Homo sapiens: one gene and its partners. The protein of the gene in region 1 interacts with the protein of each later gene in a biochemical or structural test. Each region holds a gene or a part of one and is shown on either strand. Other genes may lie near its edges. The genes, in order: STON2, REPS1, SYT1 and EHD1.

Region 1 (7,037 bases):
ATGTACAGCCCTCCCCTATCAACCCTTTCAGTGCTTTCTTTGAGGAGCAGGAGAGGCGCTCCCAAAACAGTTCCATTTCCAGTACCACGGGCAAAAGCCAAAGAGATTCCCTCATTGTCATCTACCAGGATGCCATCAGTTTTGATGATTCAAGCAAAACCCAGTCACACTCTGATGCTGTTGAAAAACTCAAACAACTCCAAATTGATGACCCTGATCACTTTGGCAGTGCAACTCTACCTGATGATGACCCAGTAGCCTGGATTGAACTAGATGCTCACCCGCCTGGATCAGCACGGTCCCAGCCTCGTGACGGGTGGCCAATGATGTTGAGGATCCCTGAGAAGAAAAACATCATGTCCTCCAGGCACTGGGGACCGATCTTCGTCAAACTGACAGACACTGGTTACCTGCAGCTGTATTATGAGCAGGGCCTAGAAAAACCATTCCGTGAGTTCAAGCTGGAGATCTGTCATGAGATTTCAGAACCCCGGCTTCAAAACTATGATGAGAATGGCAGAATCCACAGCTTGCGGATAGACCGTGTCACCTATAAAGAGAAGAAGAAATACCAGCCCAAACCTGCTGTGGCCCACACAGCAGAGAGGGAACAGGTGATTAAGCTGGGCACCACCAATTACGATGACTTCCTGAGTTTCATCCATGCAGTTCAGGACCGTCTCATGGATCTGCCAGTGTTGTCAATGGACTTGAGCACAGTTGGCCTCAACTACCTTGAAGAGGAGATTACAGTGGATGTCAGAGATGAATTCTCTGGCATTGTGAGCAAAGGAGACAACCAGATTCTCCAGCACCATGTCTTGACACGGATCCACATCCTGAGTTTCCTGTCTGGGCTCGCAGAGTGCCGCCTGGGCCTCAATGACATCCTCGTCAAAGGGAATGAAATAGTTTTGAGGCAGGACATCATGCCCACCACCACCACAAAGTGGATCAAGCTCCATGAGTGCCGTTTCCATGGGTGTGTGGATGAGGATGTTTTCCACAACTCACGGGTCATTCTGTTCAACCCTTTGGATGCGTGCCGGTTTGAGCTAATGCGGTTCAGGACAGTGTTTGCTGAGAAGACCTTGCCTTTCACACTCAGGACGGCCACAAGTGTCAATGGGGCAGAGGTGGAGGTGCAGAGCTGGCTGAGGATGTCAACTGGCTTCTCCGCCAATCGTGACCCCCTCACTCAGGTTCCCTGTGAGAATGTGATGATCCGTTACCCTGTGCCCAGTGAGTGGGTGAAAAACTTCCGCAGGGAAAGTGTCCTGGGGGAAAAGTCTTTGAAAGCCAAAGTGAACCGGGGGGCAAGTTTTGGCTCCACTAGTGTTTCTGGCTCTGAGCCTGTCATGAGAGTAACTCTGGGAACTGCCAAGTACGAGCATGCCTTCAACTCCATTGTGTGGAGGATAAACCGACTGCCGGACAAAAACTCAGGTGGGTGGTGGTTCCTCTTCTGTGAAAACAAACATACAGTTGTGAAAAAGCTGAGATCAAAGTTCCACATCCTGTATGAAGTGCTTGTTTTTGCTGTGTGATGGGAGTGGTGATGGAGGGGGAGTGGGACCAGAAAAGTAAAAATAATTGAGCAAGGTAAGTAATGCGTATAGTGACCCAGTTCACTCTGTCTTTTCACCCTCTCATTATCACACATCTTCCATAAAACTAGGGATTATTCTTCTCAGCTGAGCTGCTAAGCAGCTTTTCAGGGCAGCTTCTGAATTTATATTCTTTGGGGACTCATTAACGTATTAGCTGTGGTGCTGGAAGTGATTCATTTCTAGATGGCTTCTGAAGAGACATCTTTCTCACACTGCCCTCGATGTAGGTAAAAGGGCCAGTTTATGGCCAATCATGGACAATACACTGAGAGGTTAATTTTACGACTCCAGCTACCCTGTGCAGGGTCTGTTAGTCATAATATCTCACATTCAGACTTTGGCTCTGGGACTGGGGGATGGGAAAGAAAAGTGGCCTTCAATCAGACTGAAGATCCAGCTAGGACATGAATTTCTAAAAGGGCCAGAAGTCTAGCAGACAAAATATAAAGAAAAGAATGTTTTATTTAGACAAACAAAAAAATGCTTACCAGCCCTAGCTGGGCTGCTCGCAGCTATCAGGGATGCTTTTGTGCTTGAGTGAGTCCAGAAGGCAATTACTTCCCCCGTGGGTCCCGTGAGATTTAGTGAAATGACAAAATGAGGGAGCAGTCAAACCAGCACTAATACACATATTTCTTAGAGTATGTCTGGGTGACCCCAATGGTAGGCAGCAAGCCCATGATCTTGTAAGCCATTAAACCCCTTCTTTTCTTGTTTAGAATACATTTTGCCCATCTGTTAACGAAAGTGGATACGCTAGCTGAGCAAAAAGGATAAGGTTTGGAAAAACTCTTGAGTGAAATGGCTTTCTCTTATGTGGCTATCCTTTCTTAGATTCTCACTATAAATCGTAGCAGTGTGTTAAGAGTCTTCCTCTCCCGCTCTGAGTGTGGAGTGTCTGTATTATTATATCCTAAGTGTAATGCAATGTGACGGCCGACGGCAGTATAATCGGGCCAGCTCCCCAGGCAGTCCAGGGAGTGGACACACACCAGGGCATTCTGTATCAGACACTGGGTGTAGCTATGCAAACTGAAGAGACAATTGGATCTCTGTGTTTGAGGCTGGATTTGCTACTCCCTACTTCTAAACTGACAGAATTTTTAAAACCAAGTGTTCCTCTCTGTGCCTGCTTATTCATTTCCCCTGAAATCAGCACTGTCTTCTGCTGGTGGTAGCACTGTAACTTCTACCTTATCCACGGGGCCCCTCTGAATTGACAGAGGAAGAGAGAAAACCCTGAACTCTCCTTTGACACGGAAGCCCTTGGAAAGAGACAACCATGGAATTACCGGATTTTCAAGCTGGAAGGGACCTTGAATAACTTAGTCAAGTTATTTATAGATGAGAAAATTAAGGTCGGGAAGGTGATGTGACGTATCTAGAGAGTCATGCAGTCACATCCAGGGTCCTTTTCTTAATATATCACTGGTGCCTCCTGGTAGATGAAGCCAAATAGACACAAATATTGAAATAATTTCCACCAGAAGAACAGATATTTGCAGTTTTTCCAGTATGTACAAACGTATCTATTTGTTTCAAAGTGATTTCTCCCAAACATTTAAAAGTACTGCATGAAGGTTTATTATTATTATTATTATAAGCAACAAAGACTTATCGGCTACCCTAAGCAACAAAACAAATTATTGGATAGGATAGCTCAGAGACCTGAGGAAAAGACTGATCAAGAGAAGACTTTAGACAGACAGCACTAGAGTAGCTCTGGTCATAGAGACTAATGGATGTCTCCTCAGCATGTAGCCTTAGGACAAATCATCACAGACTATTTTTTGTTTTTGTTTTTTTGTGTTTGTTTGTTTGTTTGTTTTTTTGAAATGAAGTCTCGCTGTGTTGCCCAGGCTGAAGTGCAGTGGTGCGATCTTGGCTCACTGCAACTTCCACCTCCTGGATTCAAGCGATTCTCCTGCATCAGTCTTCTGAGTAGCTAAATTTTTGTATTTTTAGTAGAGACAGGTTTTCACCATGTTGGCCAGACTGGTCTCAAACTCCTGACCTCAGGTGATCCGCCTGCCTCGTACTCCCGAAGTGCTGGGATTACAGGTCTGAGGCACCGCACCTGGCCCTATTTTTTGTACTTTTGCAACTTGGCTCAAGAGACTAGGGGAGAGGAGTGCATTTTGACTGACGTGACCACCAAGACAACATGTAGCACCGGGGAAGATTATTTCCCAAAAGGAGAGAAAGAAAAAGACTGCTACCAGAAGAGAGGGAGGATGGATACAGGACAGGGAAAAAGCAAAACCAGGCCTTCAGCAAACACTCTCCTTAATGATTCCCAGTGGAGAGTGTTCTGTTGCCTCAAGGGCAAGTAAATGCAGCTTATATGCTGTTTTACATATCTGTTTCCAGATTGCTGGAACCTCGTTTGTGGAAGATTTTTGAAATACAGCACAGCATAAGGATATCTGTTGATGTTTCTTACTTAAATCCTCACAGCCTTGCCCCATTACTGATTTTGCTGTCATGGTTATATAACAATATTTTCAATAGTGAAACCCCATAAAGAGGCTTCTTATACTTCTCTAGCCAGTGGTATGTTTCCATACCAGTTCAGGAAATGGACAGCACCCTTTTTTGGAAACTTGAGGTGTATAGGATCTGAATTCCAGGCAGAATGTAAGTTCTCACTCATTGCTGGTATTCACTGTGCCCAGCTCCTGCCCTCCCTTGCAGTGTTCCATCCGGGAACCCAGAGAATTGATGGTTATCTTTCAGTAATAGCCCTTTCCTGGGCTCTGCTGTCTAGGTGTTCAGACAGCCCTGGGAAGGTGCTTTGTACAGGTTATTTTTTGTAATCCTTAACCTTCTTTAAGGAAGCTAGGGCTCAGCTGAGGTCAAAGGCCCCGCTGACTGGAAGCCTACTTCTCCTCACACGTTCCTGCCTACGGTGGCCCTGCATTTCCAGGCCCCAGTGGGCAGGGCAGTCAAACCCCAGGCAGCAGAGGCCAGCAGGTCAGCAGGTCAGCACCCTTGTGTTGCTGGCATCCCTAGCCTATAGCAGGCTTGTCCCAGTCCCAGCCACCAAGAGATCAAGCAGCTACCTTTGAATTCCAACGTGACTCCCGCCGGCGGGGCCCAGCCCAGCCTGGCCCAGCCCAGCCACATACGTGGGCAGCTCCCCTCTCTGAGCTCTCCAAGGACCCCTCCTACCTTCATCCCAAGAGTTTTTCTTAATCTTAGAAGGCACCGAAACAAGTCCTGCTGCTTCCACAGATCATCTGCCAGGAAATAAAACATTCTGTCCTGCATAAGTGGCTTTCTTTGCAGGAATCCCCCTTCTCATTAGACCAGGTGAAGGGAAAACAGTCCCAATATGTTCATCCTTGTATGGGAAATTTTAAAAATCTGAATTTTTTGTTGTTGAATTTTCTCAACCTCATCAAGGGAAATGACAGAATGTGTGGACTTATTTAATGCATTACTATGAATTAAACCATAATAGCTTTCAAAATTGAACTTCCTTAACTGTCCACCACCCTTACCCATCTGAGAGTCGATGCTAGAATTCTAGTAAAGAATGCTGCTTTCAGAATTTGCTGTGAGTACACTTTGGTGGAGTAAAAGGAGGGAATCAGTTGTGTAGAAAGGAAAGATTTCTCCATATTCCAACAATGTGCAAAATAAGTGTAATTAGATTAAAAGAGTTGTCCAAGTTGCTATTAAATTAAGAGATGCATCTGTATACTTTGTTGTGATCTAATTTCACAGCAATATATTGAGAAGAATTTAGGACATAGTTTGAAGGCAGAGTCATCTCTGAATCTTATTTCCAGCTCTACCACTTAACGGCTGTGTGACCTCGGGCAATTTACTTAACCCTCTCAGAGAAACCTAATTTTTTTCATCTATAAAATAGGGTTATTAATATCTAGTTCATTCAGAATGAAATGAGATAATGCTTTTAAGGGCTTAGTGCAGTATCTGGCCTGTAATAAATGTCCCATAAATGATAGCTGTATAATTACATCTGTGGCACACAATTTAAAAACATTGAGTGGATTCATTTTCAATTACTTTAATTTTTACTGTTATATGTATCTTAAATTCTTTTCTGAAAATCAGTGCAAATTTTTCAATATTCCAAAGCATTACTCTTTAGAAATAACCACTGAAATATGTTACGTTTGTGAAACAGAGCAAAACAAATACTTCACTATCTAATGTTTTCCTTGGAGAGCGGGTGTGTATGTCCTTACTCTCTGAGATTGAAAAGTCCTAGCCAGACCAATAAAGAACATTGGAATTGTTTGTTTGTGGAAACTGGGATAACTAAGGGGCTGTTTCAGTTACATAATTAAGGCAAGGTCATTTCATGTTGTTTATCTATAGCTAGTTGCTATATGGGGGTTCTTACAGCTCAATCCCTCTCTACCCCTGTCACCCTGCAAACTTGGTCTTCTGTTTTGGGGACCATGAGGTTATAACTCAGACAAAGTGGTTAAGAACACTCTGGAGTCAGACTGCTAGGTTCAGTTGTTTTTTGTTTTTTGTTTTGAGACGGAGTCTCACACTGTCACCCGTGCTGGAGTGCAGCGGCGCAATCTTGGCTCACTGCAAGCTCTGCCTCCCAGGTTCACACCATTCTCCTGCCTCAGCCTCCCGAGTAGCTGGGACTACAGGCGCCCGCCACCACGCCCGGCTAATTTTTTGTATTTTTAGTAGAGACGGGGTTTCACCATTTTAGCAGGATGGTCTCGATCTCCTGACCTCGTGATCCACCTGCCTCGGCCTCCCGCTAGGTTCAGTTTTTAGCTCTGCCACTTTCTAGCTGTGACTGTGGGTAGCTCATTTTACCTCCCTAAGCCTTAGCTTCCTCGACTATAAAATGAAGGTAACATTCTGACCTGAAAGATCATACTGAAGACTCAAAGAGAGAATCTGTATAAAAGATTTAACATAGAAGAAGGCATAGGGTACTTCAATGTTTCCTGTATGGCAGGTGAATGACAATGATGTTTCAGTGGTTATAGTCACAGCAGTAAGCTCTCTTTTTCCTCAAAAATCTCAATAACAATTCTCAAGTAAAAATCAAACCCAAAGTTTGCCATCACGAGTATAGTGGAGTTACCCATAGATGTATAGAATTAAGGAGCAGCAAGGGACTGTGCCTGGCATTGCCCAGCCCACCCTGTTGTACTTCTCCCTCTTTATCCCTTGTACCCTAATCTCCCCACTTTACAGAGGAGGAATTGAGGCCTGGAGAGTATAAAGGACTTGAGGGCAGGAGCTCTGCTGCTTAGCAGGGGAGCTGGAAGTCCAACCCAGGTGTTCTGCTGGTTGGTGTTTTGTCCAGTGTTCCATATGCTTCCCTAATATCTATGTGCTATTTATAAAGTCCTTGTCATTTACATATATCATTTACCCGCAAAAGCATGCCAAAAGCATTTTGAAAGTATGAAATACTAT
Region 2 (7,037 bases), on another chromosome or scaffold:
AGCAGTCCTCCTACCTTGGCCTCCCAGAGTGTTGCAATTACAGGCATGAACCACTGCTCCTGGCCTCAATAGTTAACTATTGAGGAGGATCAAAAGGATATCTGATTTGTTTCTCATTCCAAAATAAATTCCAGTTTGGTCAGACTTGTATATTTTCAATATTAATCATAAACATTCTAGAAGAAAACATGTATAAAGACCTTTTTTCTAAGTCTAGCAAACCCAAAAGTCCTAAAGGGGAAATGACAAGCTTGTATAAAAATTGGAAAATTCTGTATCACCAAAACAGCTTTTTTGGAAAAAACAGATAAACTAGAAAACAACATGTGCAATATGATCTGGTTTCTGCCTAAGTCATCAGCTCCATCTGCTGCATTCCCTCCTCCCCATCAATTCTACACACACTTACAGCTACACTCTGGTCTTTCCTTCCTGAGGATGCTCAGTAAATAGTCATTGAATAAATGAATTAATTCCATGACAGTTTGCAGGTCAATATGTATAATATAATAAAACCTTTTTTTTTTTTATGAGATGGAGTTTCAGTCTGTCACCCAGTCTGGAGGGCAGTGGCATGATCTCGGCTCACTGCAACCTCCATCTCCCGAGTTCAAATGATCCTCTCACCTCAGCCCCCCGAGTACTTAGAATTACCAGTGCGCACCACCACACCTGGCTAACTTTTGTATTTTTAGTAGACATGGGTTTCACCGTGTTGGCCAGACTGGTCTTGAACTCTTGATCCCAAGTAATCTGCCCTCCTTGGCCTCCCAAAGTGCTGTGATTACAGGCATGAGCCACTACCCCTGGCCACAATAAAACTTCTTAAAATGAGTAAAGAAGATTAACAGTCCATTTAAAGTTGCCAGAGAACAAGTTGGGCAAGTCAGGAAAAGAAATGCAAATGGCTAACAAATATAAAACTTTTAATAAATACCAATTAAAACAGCATTGAGATTCTGTTTCCCTTCTTGAACACTACCTCCTCATTTCTAACCATTTCCCTGGTGTCTTCCCAAAATGTCAACAAACCATACTGTGATCTCCTTTTAGGTCTTCCCTCTGTCTAGCATATACCTGGCATATGTTAGTTGCATTGTTATATAAACAAAAGTATTTAAGATATGTAATGAACCTCTAAGAGGCGTCAAGTGGGCAGAAGAGTAGAGGATTGGGGCTGCATGACCTTGCCTTTTTAAACTCCCCTTTTCCTCATAGTTCCCTTGATGGTGTTAACCTGCCTGTTTATTCTCTTTGCCCTTTTACATTTCTTCAGAAGGACATGCTCCTTAGTGGCAGGAACAGGAACTTCTTCCAGTGCTGGTCAGCCAGCAAAAATGACTCTTTTTTGTGTATGTAAATAAATGGCTGTTATTGTTGTGATACAATTGCTTAATCATTAATAGGTCCTTTTTTTGAAGTCCTGTGAATAGTTTTATTCAGACTTAATACCACAGCATCTCAGATACCTTATCTTCCTTTGAGTGTTATGGAAAAATAGACTAAAACTGCTCTCTCTATACAAAAGTTTGTGTTATTTGAAAAGATACAACAGGCATGCCTAGTGTTTATTTTAAGATAAGATTATAATATCTGCATAGTAGAAACCTCCAGCTTTTAGAGTTATGATTTTGTAATCTGAAATCCTATTTTTTGAGTCTAATATTTACTTGTGCTAGCAAGTCTAGAAATACTTGTTGAAAGACTGGAATGATTAATGTAGATCCTTGAACACTTTCATGCTCTAAAAAAGACAAATTTTGTTTGTTTTAAAGAAGAGTAGTGTAGCCATATTAAACACATTTGGAAAATAAGAGGGAAAACCCGACTCAATCTCATCTGAAAAAATTGTGATAGACTTTTAAAAAATAGTTTCCAAATTTGTATTTATGTGGTTAAAATTAGGTATCTTGCCTTTCTTCCCCACTTGATAAATCCTTAGTATTTTTCCATGTTGTTATATCATTTAAAGACCGTCACTTTAAATGGCTGCATAATAGTCTCTTAGTCACATGGTCCTATTGTATGTGCAGTGCTTATGAATAAGAGTGGGTGGTACGTTGTTTCTTTAAAAATGTGACTCATAACAAAAATTTATTCTAAGAAAATTGCTAATCATATGGATTTTGATAAATAGGAGAATGATGACCTTATTGCAAAGCAGTGACTTTTTGTTTGTAAACATATGAACCTGAAACTTGAGGAAGTTGGTTGTCAGTTGTGAGTATTATACCATCTATTAGATAGATATTTTGAGACGTTACAAACAAGTTGGGTAGCTGCTTATTTTTGAAGGGAGATTTTTGTTGTGAATCTTAATGTTAACATTATGTTATTTTATAGATCATGGAGCTTTGTGGTGCAACAAGACTTGGTTATTTTGGAAGAAGTCAGTTCTACATTGCTTTGAAACTTGTAGCTGTTGCCCAGTCTGGTTTCCCTTTAAGAGTGGAAAGTATAAATACAGGTAAATATAGAGTACACTAGTAACCGAAAGAAAATAGGCTTCTATTACAAATGAAGTCAAGTCAATAGAACTCTTGTGTCTTTCTGATCTTATAGTGGCATTTGTGACCTTGAGTGAAGTGTCGTGACTTTATTCCCACTACCTTGCATTTCTCACTTGAAAATACTAGAAAAATATGTCTGACCTGTATTACGGCATAGTATATGTACTTCATCTGTATTTGACTATATGTACTGTTCAAATGGCAATTTTTTAAGAATTAATTTACCAAAAGTTGTTTAGAAATATTTTAGGCGAATAGTTTTATTAAGGTAAATGATAAATTACAGCGACCATCTTCATGTATAGCGTCCCTGTGTTCTTCATTTCCAATAAAACAACATTATACTTTGTATTTTTGTTTGTTTGTTTGTTTGGGAAGGCTGTGGAGGCTTCAGTTGAAATTAAGAAGTAACAGTTAACCTAAACTTTTTGATCGATAAGAGACAATATTAAAATATTGGCAGACTAAAATCTAGTTATAGACATCTGACCACATTACAAGTTTGTATTAGTCCATTTTAACACTGCTATAAAGAAATCCCTGAGACTGGGTAATGTATAAACAAGAGAGGTTTAATTGACTCACTTCTGCATAGCTCGGGAGGCCACAGGAAACCTACAATCGTGGCAGAACGTAAATGGAAAGCAAGGCACATCTTATGTGGCCACAGGAGAGAGAGAGAGAGAGAGAGAGAGAGAGAGAGAGAGAGAGCAAGGGGGAATAGCCACAGACATTTAAACCATCAGATCTCATGAGAACTTGCTCACTATCACAAGAGCAGCATGGGGGAACCGCCCCCATGATCTAATCACCTCCCATGTGGGAATTACAATTCAAGATGAGATTTGGGTGGGAACACAGAGTCAAACCATATCGAAGTGTTACATCAGATAATTTGTTTTTCAAGTATTTAGAGGCTTGTTGATGTGAAAGAAGATAGAAATTCTATAAAGAAAGGCACTTAAATGCAGAGGGTTCTTTCATTTTCATAGAGTAAAGGGGAAAGAGAAAAATTAAGATTTTAAAAATAATCTGTACAGAAAAATTTCTGTAAAATTCTGTAAATATCAGAATTTGTAGAAATAGTTTTAAGTACCAGTTTAGTTTATTGGTCGGTAGAGGTTTTCATTGTGGACCTCTAGTTTGCCACACATCATTCTTCTAGTGTTGGGAGTTTACATTCTTTTCAGGTAATTTTGAATTCTTTTACATGTATATTGAATAAGCTTAATAGTTTCCTTCCTTCATGTGGAGGTTCTAAACAGAGACGAAAGTAATCATGTAATGGAGGTAAGTACGCTTTCCTCTGAAATGATTTTGTAGCTGTATTTTTTCTGGTCTAAAAGTATCACTTATTTACCTGCAAACAGTTTCTCAGTCCTTCATCTTTCTCCTCTATTTAAAATTGAATGTAGAATATCTGGCTGTAGGAGAAACATAAGCCAGACTACAGTGGATAGATAGAATACTCTACCATATTTTTGGGGGGTGAACAATAAGGTATTTTTAAGAATTTCTGCCATGAAAATTTCTAAATCTAGTCTCAGACTTAGTGACATATTCTGTGTTTTACTTAGAGGTCTAAAATCTTACTTTAAAGACCCGGTGTGAGTAGAAGCAGCCTAGGCTTTGGGGTCTGACTGATCTAGGTTTATATCTTAACTGTCAGTTACTACAAGCATGACCTTGGCATCATGGAGCCTCAGTTTTCTTATCTGTAAATAGGAGCTTTGCAGGGGTACTGTGGTTACGAGGTGAAATAAATATTCAGTGGCAAGTATAGGGCCAAACATACGTAGACATTTGATGTAGCCATTGTTATCACTCATTAGAAGGACAATTTGGTTTTATTACTTCTTTCTAGATAAGAGTCTCCCTAAATAATGTAAGGGAGATGGTGGTCCAAATTTTGTGGTGATAGACATTTTGTGCCTCTTGTTTCTGTATCCATTTTTACAAAAATTCTAATATCTAATTCATGTCTTATTTTAGTTTTCAATATATATGTCCTTTTTTATTTTGAAGTAATGATTATTTTGTGGTTAACAGTAAAGGACCTTCCTCTGCCAAGATTTGTTGCTTCAAAGAATGAACAGGAATCTCGCCATGCAGCCTCATATTCTTCAGATTCTGAAAATCAAGGGTCGTATTCTGGTGTAATTCCCCCACCACCTGGCAGGGGGCAAGTGAAAAAGGGATCCGTAAGCCATGATACGGTTCAGCCTCGTACATCTGCAGATGCACAGGTAATCACATGCATGTAAATATTAGCAGTTGATGCCCTGTGCAAATGCTTCACTAAGGCTCTTATTGGTAGCTTAATAATTAAAATGTCTCCTTAAAGTTAAAATTTTAAAATAATATTCTTTTCTAGGAACCTGCATCCCCAGTAGTTTCACCACAGCAATCCCCACCAACTTCTCCACACACATGGAGGAAGCACAGCCGTCATCCCAGCGGTGGGAATAGTGAGAGGCCTCTCGCGGGACCTGGGCCATTTTGGTCTCCCTTTGGTGAAGCACAATCAGGTATTTAGAGATTGATTGATTAGAGTGTCATTGTGTTGCCCAGGCTGGTCTTGCACTCCTGGGTTCAAATGATCCTCCTGCCTCAGCCTCCTGAGTAGGTGGGGATTATAGGCTTGTGCCACAGAACCTGGCTTAGAGATTTTTTGAAAGTAACAATTATTTAGGGTTGTAAATTGAAGGAAACTTGATAATATTCCTTCAGGAGTTGCCTCCCAGATAGTTTTTAATTGTAAGTTTAAGTTAAATAGAAGCAAAAACCAACTATGGAAATTTGTAAGTGGATACATTGCTTTGAAAAGTGGTAATTGCATTTATGTGTATCTGTGATGTTTAGACAAGTTTATGGATACCAGATTCTCTAAAGGTAAAATGAATAATTATTTCCCAGAATATTATGTATATATTACATACATTTTATTGACAAGGAGAGCACAAAATAATTGAAGATATTTAAATGAGGTATAATTTCTAATAGAACAGAAAAGATTCCATTTTGGAAATTGTTAGATTTCTTCAGAGTAAGAGTTGGAAAGAAAACTTCCTAGTAACTTTTTTCCTCAAACATGAGTCAGCATGTTTACCCATTCTCCTTATAGGTTCTTCTGCTGGTGATGCAGTGTGGTCAGGGCATTCCCCACCTCCACCTCAAGAAAACTGGGTCAGTTTTGCAGATACTCCACCAACCAGTACTCTTTTAACCATGCATCCTGCTTCTGTCCAGGTGTGACATTTTATTGGTATTGCATTTTTATTTGCTTCATTCAGAGTATTGCTCCAGTCGTTGTTTTTATATTTTGCTGTTGCAGATTTTATAAATGCAAATCCACTCATTTATTTAAAAGCAAAATTCTGCTCTGTGCATTTCAAATCTGTTATCATTGGAATGTTTCAGCTGATTTTATTTCTGTTTCTGATTCCCTAGTGAAGTTTTGAAAGGTTTCTGCATCTGGAAATATATTTGCTTGGCTTTCTTAGCACATTTTCATAACTTTCTGTTGCTTACATAATTGCTGTCATTCTACTCGTTTCTATAATCATTGTGCAAAAACATATCCAATAATCTGACTGTAACAGATGTGTGGTTTTACATTTTAAATATACACAAAAAGCAAGTTTTACTTTCAAAGATAAATAACCTAGCAATCTTGGTCCATATAATCATGTAGGTAGATATTGTACTGAGGAAAAAATGTTTCATTACAGGACCAGACAACAGTACGAACTGTAGCATCAGCTACAACTGCCATTGAAATTCGTAGGCAATCCAGTAGTTATGATGATCCCTGGAAAATAACAGATGAACAAAGACAGTATTATGTAAATCAGTTTAAAACCATTCAGCCTGATCTAAACGGATTTATTCCAGGTGAGTTGTTGAAAACAGAAGTTCTTCTAGATGGGACAGGAGAATCTCAATTTCATAATATCAAAGACATTGTTTTATTGGTCATAGATTTTAATTATAAAATAATTATCAGATTATTTGTCTAAAAAGAATTTATAATCACTGGGGGCCAAAAACATGACATATTCACATATTAAAAATATCTTTTCCCAGTTAAAAAAGTCTAAGACTCTTACATTCTGTTCGTGGATCCGTAAGTTCAGAATAACATTAAACAACACTGTTTTAATATTTCAGGATCTGCAGCTAAAGAGTTTTTTACAAAATCAAAACTTCCTATTCTTGAACTTTCTCATATTTGGTAAGTGTGGTATATCATTAGTTGGGTAACTGGGTTGCTTCCAAGGAGTTTCTAGCAGATAGATTTTAGAGCCTTAAAAAATAAACAACTAACCCCTTCAAGAATGCTGTCAAAGAACTCAGTATTGCCTTACAATAGCCAGCTTCTCTCTTATTCTGCAGAAAAGAAATAAGTGATACTGATACAGTAGTTCTTTGTAAAGAGCTAAAATTCTTTAAGCTGTATCAGCTGTTTTTTTGTTGCTAGCATAATGTATGAGATAAAAGTTAGTTTGCACATACATGGTTATATTT
Region 3 (3,772 bases), on another chromosome or scaffold:
GTGGGCTTCAGCGTCCAGTACAGTAGGCACTTGATAAATGTTAAATTTAGTGGAGGAAAAGTATTTACTTGTTTCCCATAGCGATCGTAGTAGGCATAGAATTTAATGTGTCATACTGTCCTCTGAAACTGGGGTTTAAATAGTTTTGTTTTCCGTCCCATTCTGGAGAAGCTGTGTGACTTGGGTTCTGGAGTGAAAACCCTGAAGGACACATGCTGGGCAAAGTGAAAAGCCTCAGAGTACGCCAGATGAACTGATGACACACAGGAATAGAGAAACACATGTTGAGAATGACACTGCCCAGGAACACCACGCGGTCATGGCCAAATGCTCCCGGGTGTTGTTTTCCCTCTAGCTATTCTGTACTCAGATGTGACTCAGATGCTGGCATTCAGTGCAGTTTTGTTTAGCTGCTGCTGCTTCCAGGAGTCCCCCAAAGTCAATAGGCCATTGGCTTACCACCAGAGTCAGGCAAGGAAAAGAGTGGGAACGCAGCAACATCAACAGGAAATAAAACATTTTTATTGAATATCTGTGTAATATGTTAAGTCATTTTTAACAACAATCAGAAAACTACTGTGGAATTCACTACACAAAGTGAAACAAAATTTAAATCACCTCATCAAAAATGAAGGTAAAATACAGCTGAAATAGTTGGCTCGCAGGCCACGAGCCATATGGCAGAGGAAAACACCCCAACATTTCTACAAGATACAGGGAAAACCCACACATAGAAACACTCAAGCAGGCAGTAAATATACACAAAGGCAACTAGGATCTTTCTAGAGCATCAGATTCTAATACTTTACACAGCTTTGTCAGAAGGGTACATGTGGCTTATTTGAGGATGAATCTTGGTCATAAAGCAGGTTCCATCACTGACTTGTGAAAGAGTGAAAGATGGCATAGTACCAACTAATTCTATGGTGACAATCCCATGTCTGGCAGTGTTGCAAGAGAATGCATTAGTGGTATTTTAATGCAAGAAATAATGTCTATTCAGCAGCTTGAACCTGCTTGTTTGAAAGTGTGGTTTCATTGTGAACAACTTAAAGCTGAATACAGTGAAATTAAATGTCATTTGTGGTATTTAAATACTTTTTAAAAGCCAGTCAACTCCCTCTCTTTGGTAGGGTTTGGCCCTTTAAATTGGAAAGAGTCTTGTTTGAATTTTCTGTTCAAACCATTATTTAATTTCACATTCTGACTTGTGTATATTTTCTATTACCTATGTTTTTTAAGAAGTACGGACCATCGGCAGACGGTTATTTTCCTTTTATCCTTTATGTCTATGCCAATTATAAAGCGTTTGCTATGTCTGGCCTAAAAGGCAAAAGAGCTTGCCCCTTCTTTGATAAGGAAACAGTAACGACAGGAATTCCAGTTTTACTGGGAAACAGCCAACCCCATGTTCAAAGCCTACCATCAGCCCTTTTTGAATTCTCTTTAGTTTTTGAAAAGACGTGGTGTGATATCCTGAAGACTGAACATGAGGCCAATGCTTAGTTTTCCTCCATTTTGTTTTGATATTTGTGAAGACAAACTTTCATTTCAGAGCATCACTACTGTCTTGTGGCCTGGAAATTAAAATGGATCACAGAAGTGAATGGGACAAAAGGCTAGATGCAGTGTGGGATAATAGGCTGCCCTTCCACGAAATGGTTGTCTACCATAGTGGGGAAAAATATGGAATATTGCACAGTGCTTGACAAAATGCTGTGTTCCACCCCATTCTATGTATCTTCCTTGTCCTATGCATAGCTTTTCAGTTCTGAATTGGTCCTTTGTAATGAGAACTGTTTGTGCTACACACACCTTGGGCAGTGCAGTAGAAGGGAATGGCAGTATTGTTACAATATCACTACGGAATAAATTGAGTGCTATCCACTGAGGAAACTACGGGTCTAAGCACACACGGCAGTCACAGTGTTACACAGAGCAGTCCTTTAAGACTCTTATGGAATGACTAGTAGCTTCATAATAGTGTCATTTACTACATAATAACATTGAAAACGTTTAAAAACTCCTCCTAAATCAAGCATCTAGTATACATAAGAGGTTGCTTCAGTTTTCTAGAACTTGTTCTTGGTTTGTTTCACCTTTTTTTAAAGGACAAATTAAAACTTAAGTAAAAAGAGCATATAAAAAGATCACTAGCTGTCTGTTTTGGCTTAATTGAAGTGCATTCAGAACTATGGCTAATTGTTGTTGGTTTTTGTTTTTGTTTTTCTTTCATCTTTTGATGGGATTACAATACTGTCTGTTTACCACAAAGTAATTTTGTGTAATAAGCACAGATTGTTGTGTTAAAAATATCCTGCATTCCTTCTAACCTGGTTTTATATAATAAAATATTTTGTTACAAACTCTAATGTGCAAACCTTTTGGAATTATTGTAGGTGTGAAATCTGGAACAGAATTCACAGGATGTACATTTTGTATAAAGGTGATAATGGAGAGCTACTTTTTTCTTTTTAAATAGTCAGGCAATATTTCATAAATGTTGACTTCTCCCCTTAGCTTCTTCTCCCCCATCCCCAAACAAATGTGCACACACACACACACACACACACACACACACACACGGAACACCTTGTTGTTATTCTATATGCAGTAATATGAAATCATTGACTCCTGTTCAGTTGCTTCCTCAAATATAAGAGTGAAGCCATTATTTTAGCTTTGTAAATATGTACAGACAGGTGCTATTCTGTTTTGTGGCTATGCTTCCTTGAGGTCAGCCTGGATGCTGCTGCTCAGATCATGCTATTTTGCCTGTGTAGGAATTCTACAAAATTGGATTCACCCACCAAGTATGTGGTGTAAGTTTATCTTGGTACTCAAATGATTCAATAGAAAGCTCAGGTTTAAGTTGTCCTTTAAGATGTCAGTTTAACTGTACTAGTGCCTTACGAGTTGATATTTTTGCTGGAATGCAGACGATACTATATTTACCGTATAATATATTATCAGCTCTCCTATATCTCAGTCAATTTACATAGTTTAAAATAGAACATCTTATTAAAAACATCTAGATATACACAGATTAGGAAACGCTTACAACATACAAATACACAAACTAGAAATAAATCTTTAGCATACTGGTATATACAACAGTGTGATACAATAAATAATTTCATTCATGCTCTATCTACACATCATATTGCTTAAAAGAAGAGTAGATTTGGAGGGCAGTGGTATGATGAAGGACTTAGGGGCTCTCTACATTTAAATTTGTGCAAATTAAAACAGGATTCCAAGTACCACTGAATTGTGTTAGGAATGCATGGCTGGAAAAATGAAAGGACCCATATTACTGAGGTATTTACAGATACTGGCTAAAGAGCACTATATGGGCAAATGCAGAAAGGCTTCTTCTTTCCTTTACTTCTTGACGGCCAGCATGGCATCAACTTCCTCCTCTACCTGCAGGGTGTGCCACTGGGCAATAGGTCGCCTGGGGTTGGCCAGCATGTCTGACCAGTGTCGCAGCTCCGCGCCGGTGCTGTTGTAGCCCACAAAGACTTTGCCGATGGCATCGTTCTTGCCAATCTTGTCATAGTCCAAAACAGTTACCACCACCTGCACTTTCTGAAAGAAGCCATGAAATGAATATGAATCATCTAGCTCTAGAGATAAGGCCCGACTATAAAGCGTCCTTGAGCGCTAAAGAATTGGAAATAGAAGAATCAATCTCCAAGCACTAGGATGAGGATGAAAATGACTTGAATCTTAATACTCAAACGTTAATTTTTATTATATACTTTGCACT
Region 4 (7,037 bases), on another chromosome or scaffold:
CACTCCACGTCGTCGATGCCCTCGCCGGCCCCCTCGCCGTAGCCGTGCCCGAACGGCCCGTTCATGGTGCCGTCAAAGGCGCCGCCCTTGACCACCTGGGAAGGCATCAGGGACTCCTCCTGCCGCACCATCACCATCAGCCGCGCGATGTCGTTGGCCAGCATGTCATCCACCGTGTCCAGCAGCTTGGGCTTCAGCGCCTGGAACTTGCTGAAGTCCTGGGTCTGCAGGAGTTCCTGTGGGCGGGGGAGGAAGGACAAGGGCTGGGAAGGGAGGCCCCTCCCAGACTCCAGGCCAAGTGGTTCCAGTCAGGGCTTCACAAGCATAAAGTGCTGCTCCCCCACACTAGCAGGGGCGACTCGGCAAAACCATCTGGCCCTTGGCTCTCTAACCTGTACACAGGAGGCACCTCCAGCTCTTTCCTTGCAGGGCTGCGGCAAGGATTCATGGACAGGGCACCAGAGCGCCTGGCATGGCCCTGCCCTCCCCCCACCACGCAGGGTGAGTCACCACATTCCCCTCTGCAGTGTCACCGCCTGGGTCAACTCTGAGTTGGGTGGGGTGCTGGTGATTAACCCAGCTGCTTCCGTTCAGGGAGGCCCTTCCCCATGGAGATGGGATTCCCTCCAAATCCAGTGCCCTGGGCCTTCCTTCTGCCCTGATGGCCACCAGCCTGCATGGGGCCTCGGGACAGCCGTACCTGCATCTTGCGGAGGCTCGGGAAGTCCCCAGGGGAGATCTGGTGCTCGCGCTCAATCTTCTGGTAGATCTCTCCGAGGTTGTTCACCAGCTCTTTCTTTTTGCTCTCTTTACCAAAGACATTGGGCATCTCTTTCTTGAGGGAGCTGATGATGTAGGCGTGAACCTGTGAGGACGGGGTGAGCATCAGGCGCTCTCTTGGCCCAGGCTGCCCCCGAGAGCAGAGCCTCCAAGGACACTCCAAGGATACTCCAAGGTGCTCGCTCAGGAACAGGGAAGCAGGAGGGATGGGTCAAGCTCAAGGCCGCTACCACCACCGGCTCCCACAGTCCTAGGAGCAGACACAATCTGGCAAGAGCCACAGCTGTCCACTGCCACAGGACAGAGGACAGGACAGGAAAACGCACTTGAAACAGAAGACAACAGCCTTGGCCTTGCACGGATCATTGTGATGATTCAGGAAGAGTAAAACCCAGTCTGTCAACCCAAAGAAGGCAATTTGTCGTGTACCACTGGGCACATCACACACCCTCTGTTCAACCCTCACCACGCATCACACACCCTCCGCTCAACCCTCACCACGCATCACACACCCTCCGCTCAACCCTCACCACGCATCACACACCCTCCGCTCAACCCTCACCACGCATCACACACCCTCCGCTCAACCCTCACCACGCATCACACACCCTCCGCTCAACCCTCACCACACACCCTCCGTTCAACCCTCACCACAGCCCTGCGGGGTGGGATTCTCCCAACCCGGCCCTAAGCAAGGCTGGGAAAGGCTGCCTGGGGTGCTTGGCTCCCACATGGAGGAGCTGGGATTGGAACCCCGGGCTGCTGAAGGTGCCCCACAGCCCATGTTCTTCTGTTTCTCTGCAAGCCCCCTTCCCCCGAGCTGCCCCCTCCCACGCAGCAGAGCAGGGAGCAGGCTTCCTGCAGGGCCCACCAGCCTGCACGTCCAAATCCCTGCTGAGTGCCGATGGAGCCCACAGAACTCCAATGGGCCCGTGCCACGCTCCACTCCATCATCACAGCTCGGATGACGAAGGATTTGAAAAATCCCAAAAAGGCTTCTCCTGGTGGTTGCCAGCTTTATCCAAGCATCAATACCTTGCTTAGGCATGTGCCTGTTCAGGGCGGCACCCCCTTCATTTCCCTGCAGCAAGCTGGGAACCTGGCAGCCCTCGAGAGTAGCCCAGCCCTCAGATCCCTCGGCCTTGCCAAGTCGTGTCCAGCCACAGAGGGCTGCGGCCAGCCAGCCTTGCTGCCCTTCTCCCCGGCTCCAGCCCATCCACCACCCCGCTCAGCCTGAGCCTGTGCCCTGGGTGGGGGCCTGGCTGAGAACTGCCTGAGGGAGGCAGCCCCGTGCCATGTGGGTCTGGATCTAGAGTCTCCCCAGGGACACTGTGGCAGGCAGATCCCAGGCCGGTGGGAGTCATCACAGAGAGCACCACTCACTCCAGGAAAAGGAAGTGGCAGGTGTGAGGCAACACTGGAGGCCACAGGGTTTTCCAGGCGCGGTGACTCAGTGTGCCTGGGGCCTGGCAGTCACACATGGTCTCACAGACGACCAGGCAGGGGCTCATGCCTGCCCCTTGTCCTGTCTGTCCTCAAAGGTGGCTGAGCAAGGGAGCTCTCTCTGCCCTGCAAGGAGAGAAACTCAGCTAGGGCCACACCCACACCCCTCAGCTCAGGACGTCCTTTGTCCTTTGAGGCCAGGGTCAGTCACCTGGGTTTTTGTATGGGTTCCTCTCTCAAAGCTGGCTCCACTCACAGGGAGGCTCCAGAAGGGAGAGATCTAGAAAAACATCCAGCCAGCCGGGCGCGGTGGCTCACGCCTGTAATCCCAGCATTTTGGGAGGCCGAGGCAGGCGGATCACCTAAAGTCAGGAGTTCGAGACCAGCCTGATCAACATGGTGAAACCCCGTCTCTACTAAAATATAAAAATTAGCTGGGTGTGGTGACGGGCGCCTGCAATCCCAGCTACTCAGGAGGCTGAGGCAGGAGAATGGCTTGAGCCTGGGAAGCGGAGGTTGCAGTGAGCCGAGATTGCGCCACTGCACTCCAGCCTAGGTAACAGAGTGAAACTCCATCTCCAAAAAAATCAAAAAATAAAATAATAAAATTAAAAATAAGAAAAACACGCAGCCCTCTGTCCTCCAGAGCCGGCATCTGACCCACGCCCGTGCACACAGCTCACGGAGGTTCAGGCCAGAATGAGAATTCCTCATCTACAGGGTGAGGTGGGGCCCAGGGTACTTGGGGCACAATGGGAGGACAGTGGTGGCAAAGGATGAAGGGTCAGTTCTCACTGCTCAGACCAGGTAGCACCCACATGCCCTCTGACTGGCCTCCAGACAGAGTGGGTACGAGGGCCACTGTGCTCAACGCCTGCAGTCTCCATGCCTCTGAGCAGGCAGGGACATGGGCTCCCCAGGAAGTGCCCATCCTCAGTCCTCAGTTATATTCTGGAGATCAGGGGACTGTGACCCTGGCCACAGGCACATCTGTCACTGAAGCCTTCATGCCCACATGATGTCTACCCTGGTACCCCCTGCATGCCATGAGGTGGGGGCAAGCACCCTGCTCTGTTGAAGAACTGGGGACGTATCACCAAAGGGCCTGGCTTGGCAGGCAGGACAGTTCCCCAGCCACGCTCCGGCCTGGCTGGCCTGGAGATAGGAGCTACGGCAAGGGCCTTTTTTTTTTTTTTTTTTTTTAAATTAAATAGAGACAGGGTCTCACTAGGTTGCTCAGGCTGGTCTCTAACTCCTGGCCTTAAGGGATCCTCCTGCTTTGGCCTCCCAAAGTGCTGGGATTACAGGCGTGAGCCACCATGCCTGGCCAGAGCCTATTTCTTTTCTTTTTTTTTGAGACAGAGTCTTGCTCTGCCACCTGGGATGGAGTGCAGTGGTGTGATCTCAGCTCACTGCAACCTCTCCCTCCTGGGTTCAAGTGATTCTCCTGTCTCAGCCTCCCAAGTAGCTGGGATTACAGGCACGCACCACCACGCCCGGCTAATTTTTGTATTTTTTTTAGTAGAGATGGGGTTTTGCCATGTTGGCCAGGCTGGTCTCGAACTCCTGACCTCAGGTGATGCGCCCACCCACCTTGGCCTCCCAAAGTGCTGGAATTACAGGATGAGCCACCATGCCTGGCTGGAGCCTATTTCTGAAACAACCGAGCCCTGTGCTAAGAGCCTGAAAGAATAGCTAGGTGCCCTGCTGATACAAATGTGGGCTTGGTCACTTCTCAGCTGTTCAGACAATCTGTGTCAAACACTCCTGTCCACGGGGTCAACCCCAACCACAGCCGGGACTGTCACTCATGGTGACTCGTCTAGGCTGGCTCACGATAGGGTGCTATCCAAAGTCAGACACGCCAAGGGCATGTGTTCTGTCATTCTGTGTTGGAAGGGCCCGCTGGTGGCATTAACCTTTGTTTCCTGGCCCCACCCACACCGGCTCTCACTCAAGTACTTGGTCAGCCACTGAGATTCCAAACCCTTTGGCCATTCAGAGGCTGCTGATAGGTGCCACCAGGCCTGGGCTGCCAGGAGACCTAAGGATGGTCTGCAAGGCCTGCTGAACTGACACTGCCTCAGCGTGACCTTGGCTTCCATGCACAGTGCTCCCCGGGCTGCAGGCTGGCACCCTGTCTCCTCACGAGCTGCTTCCTGTCACAGCTTAAGCTTCAGCTCCTGCCAGGCCCCCCCAGCCCTTCTACTCCACTGGGACAGCCCCTAGCGCCAGCTCCCGCAGCAGCCTGTGCTCGCTCCGAGACGACACAAATAACTGATGTTTATTTTTTGTTTGCGTGCTCTGCTTTCCCCATGAAGGCTGAGGAGTGGACAGGGGCTGTGTGTCACTCCCCGCCAGTACCCGGCATCCAGCACTGTGCTGAGTGCACTTCAGGCTCAGTAAACCCCAGAGGGGTAATCCCAGCACTCTGGGAGGCTGAGGTGGGCAGATCACCTGAGATCAGGAGTTTGAGACCAGCCTGGCCAACATGGTGAAACCCTGTCTCTAATAAAAATACAAAAATCAGCTGGGCATAGTGGTGCGTGCCTGTGATCCCAGCTACTCGGGAGGCTGAGGTAGGAGAATCATTTGAACCTGGGAGGTGGAGGTTGCTATGAGCCGAGATCATGCCACTGCACTCCAGCTTGGGCAACAGAGCGAGTCTCCGCTTCAAAAACAAAAACAAAAACAAAAAACCCTAGAGGGAAGCCAACAAGCCTTAGAGCTCTATCCCCCAACACTCCATTTCTGAGGCTGCCTCCTTTGCTTCAGCGGTAACTTCCTGTGTGCTGTTTCTGTGTTGTAAGCACAGTCAAACCCTTCCTGAAAGTAGATGGGGTATAAACCACAAACAGAACAGGTTTAGAGGGAGGCCGGGTAGAGAATCTTAGTTAAGAGCAGGCTGCACGCGGGTGCTGACCAAAGACTGGTTTCTATAGAGGGAAACAGCGCAGTGCAGGTCTGCCTGTGAAGTGAGCTGGGAAGGGTCTCGGGCAATCCTGGGGCCCTGAGTGCCAGTCTCAGAGCCCCATGGCCCTGCCTGGCAATAGGCTGCTCCCCTCACCCCAGGGTCTACCTTGGCCAGCCGTGCCCGCTTGATCAGGTCATTGAGCTTCCTGAGGGCGGCGTTTCGGGGCAGTGACTGGATGTCCTTGAAGAGGTCCTGCTCCTCGGCCTCAAAGAGCTTGCGGTTGTCGGGGATGAGGAGCGGGTGGGACCAGAAGGAGCCGATGTAGACCCTGACCACCTCGGGGGTGTTGATGATCTTGCCCAGGGACCACATGAGGGCCCCGTACACCCGCATCAGCTGCTGCGTCTCGATCTGGTCTGCCTTGTTCAGCACCACGCGGATCTTGTCCTCATGGTTCTTCAGAGCCTTGATCACTTCCGAGAACTCATCGGAGATGTCCAGCTTGTGGGCGTCGAAGAGCAGGATGATGCGGTCCACACGCTCCGCGAACCACTCCAGGACGGCTGCAAAGTCATAGCCTGGGGGGAAGAGAAGGGAGAGCTCAGGGGCGCCAAGGGACCTGCTGCTCTGATGGCTCTCATCTCCAACCTGGCCTGGTATTTCTCAGCCTGAGATAGTTTTTAAAATTCCTATAGGCCGGGCGTGGTGGCTCACGCCTGTAATCCCAACACTTTGGGAGGCCAAGGTGGGAGGATCACGAGGTCATGAGTTTGAGGCCAGCCTGGCCAACATAGTGAAACCCTGTCTCCACTAAAAATACACAAATTAGCCGGGCAGGGTGGCGCGAGCACTCAGGAGGCTGAAGCAGGAGAATCGCTTGAACCCAGCAGGTGGAGGTTGTGGTGAGCCAAGCCCATGCCACCGCACTCTAGCCTGGGTAAGAAGAGCAAAACTGTCGCGAAAAAAAAAAAAAAAAGAAAAGGCCAGGCACAGTGGCTCACACCTGTAATCCCGACACTTTGGGAGGCTGAGGTGGGTGGATCACAAGGTCAGGAGTTCAAGACCAGCCTGGCCAACATAGTGAAGCCCTGTCTCTACTGAAAATACAAAAATTAGCCCGGCATGGTGGTGGGCACCTGTAATCCCAGTTACTCGAGAGGCTGAGGCAGGAGAATTGCTTGAACCTGGGCGGCAGAGGTTGCAGTGAGCTGAGATTGCGCCACTGCACTCCAGCCTGGGCAACAGTGTGAGACTCCATCTCAAAAAAAAAAAAAAAAAATAGCCGGGTGTGGTGGCACATGCCTGTAGTCCTAGCTACTCAGGAGGCTGATGCAGGAGAACTGCTTGAAACCAGGAGGCAGAGGTTGCAGTGAGCCGAGATTGTGCCACTGCAGTCCAGCCTGCGTGACACAGCGAGACTCCGTCTCAAAAAAAAAAAAAAAATTCCTAGGTGTTCATCTAGACAGCACAGCACCCTGAGGGCAGGATTATCTCCCCTATTCCTGCCCCCACCATAACACTCCCCAACCCATGTAGCACTTGGCATAAACAGGTGCTAATGCAAAGGTCGTCCCACAGTGCAAGCTCTAAGGTGGGTCAGAGGAGGGCGAGAGTGAGGAGGAGACCCAGCACTGTGCTCAGCACAGCACAGAGGGTAGAACATAGACTCCAGTGTTGCCACCTGCCTGCTGTATGCCCTGGGACGGTAGTGACAAGAGGCGCCTGCAAAAGTAACTGCAGCTGCTACTTTTTCAGTGCTGATGTGCCAGGCTCCCCATTTTGCAGGAATCTCACTTATTTTCTGCAACAAGGGTTGGCAAACTACAGCTCAGGGATCAAACCTGGCCCACCACCTGTTTGTATAAATAAAGTTTTATTGAAACACAGCCATGCTCATTTG

What was found.
Region 2: the proteins of STON2 (region 1) and REPS1 interact in a biophysical measurement, tested with the Homo sapiens proteins (one study listed by IntAct).
Region 3: the proteins of STON2 (region 1) and SYT1 form a complex in vitro, tested with the Homo sapiens proteins (2 studies listed by BioGRID).
Region 4: the proteins of STON2 (region 1) and EHD1 interact in a biophysical measurement, tested with the Homo sapiens proteins (one study listed by IntAct).

Annotation. Positions count from the first base shown.
Region 1 is NC_000014.9:81,271,310-81,278,346, reverse strand, and holds part of STON2 (stonin-2), read left to right. Parts: coding exon 1-1,446; intron 1,447-7,037. UniProt on the Homo sapiens protein: Adapter protein involved in endocytic machinery. Involved in the synaptic vesicle recycling. May facilitate clathrin-coated vesicle uncoating.
Region 2 is NC_000006.12:138,943,220-138,950,256, reverse strand, and holds part of REPS1 (ralBP1-associated Eps domain-containing protein 1), read left to right. Parts: intron 1-2,343; coding exon 2,344-2,467; intron 2,468-4,559; coding exon 4,560-4,756; intron 4,757-4,884; coding exon 4,885-5,038; intron 5,039-5,634; coding exon 5,635-5,759; intron 5,760-6,241; coding exon 6,242-6,404; intron 6,405-6,680; coding exon 6,681-6,744; intron 6,745-7,037. UniProt on the Homo sapiens protein: May coordinate the cellular actions of activated EGF receptors and Ral-GTPases.
Region 3 is NC_000012.12:79,448,737-79,452,508, reverse strand, and holds the end of SYT1 (synaptotagmin-1), read right to left. Parts: intron 3,592-3,772; coding exon 3,385-3,591; 3' UTR 501-3,384; downstream 1-500. UniProt on the Homo sapiens protein: Calcium sensor that participates in triggering neurotransmitter release at the synapse. May have a regulatory role in the membrane interactions during trafficking of synaptic vesicles at the active zone of the synapse.
Region 4 is NC_000011.10:64,854,622-64,861,658, forward strand, and holds part of EHD1 (EH domain-containing protein 1), read right to left. Parts: intron 5,716-7,037; coding exon 5,303-5,715; intron 866-5,302; coding exon 701-865; intron 237-700; coding exon 1-236. UniProt on the Homo sapiens protein: ATP- and membrane-binding protein that controls membrane reorganization/tubulation upon ATP hydrolysis. In vitro causes vesiculation of endocytic membranes. Acts in early endocytic membrane fusion and membrane trafficking of recycling endosomes.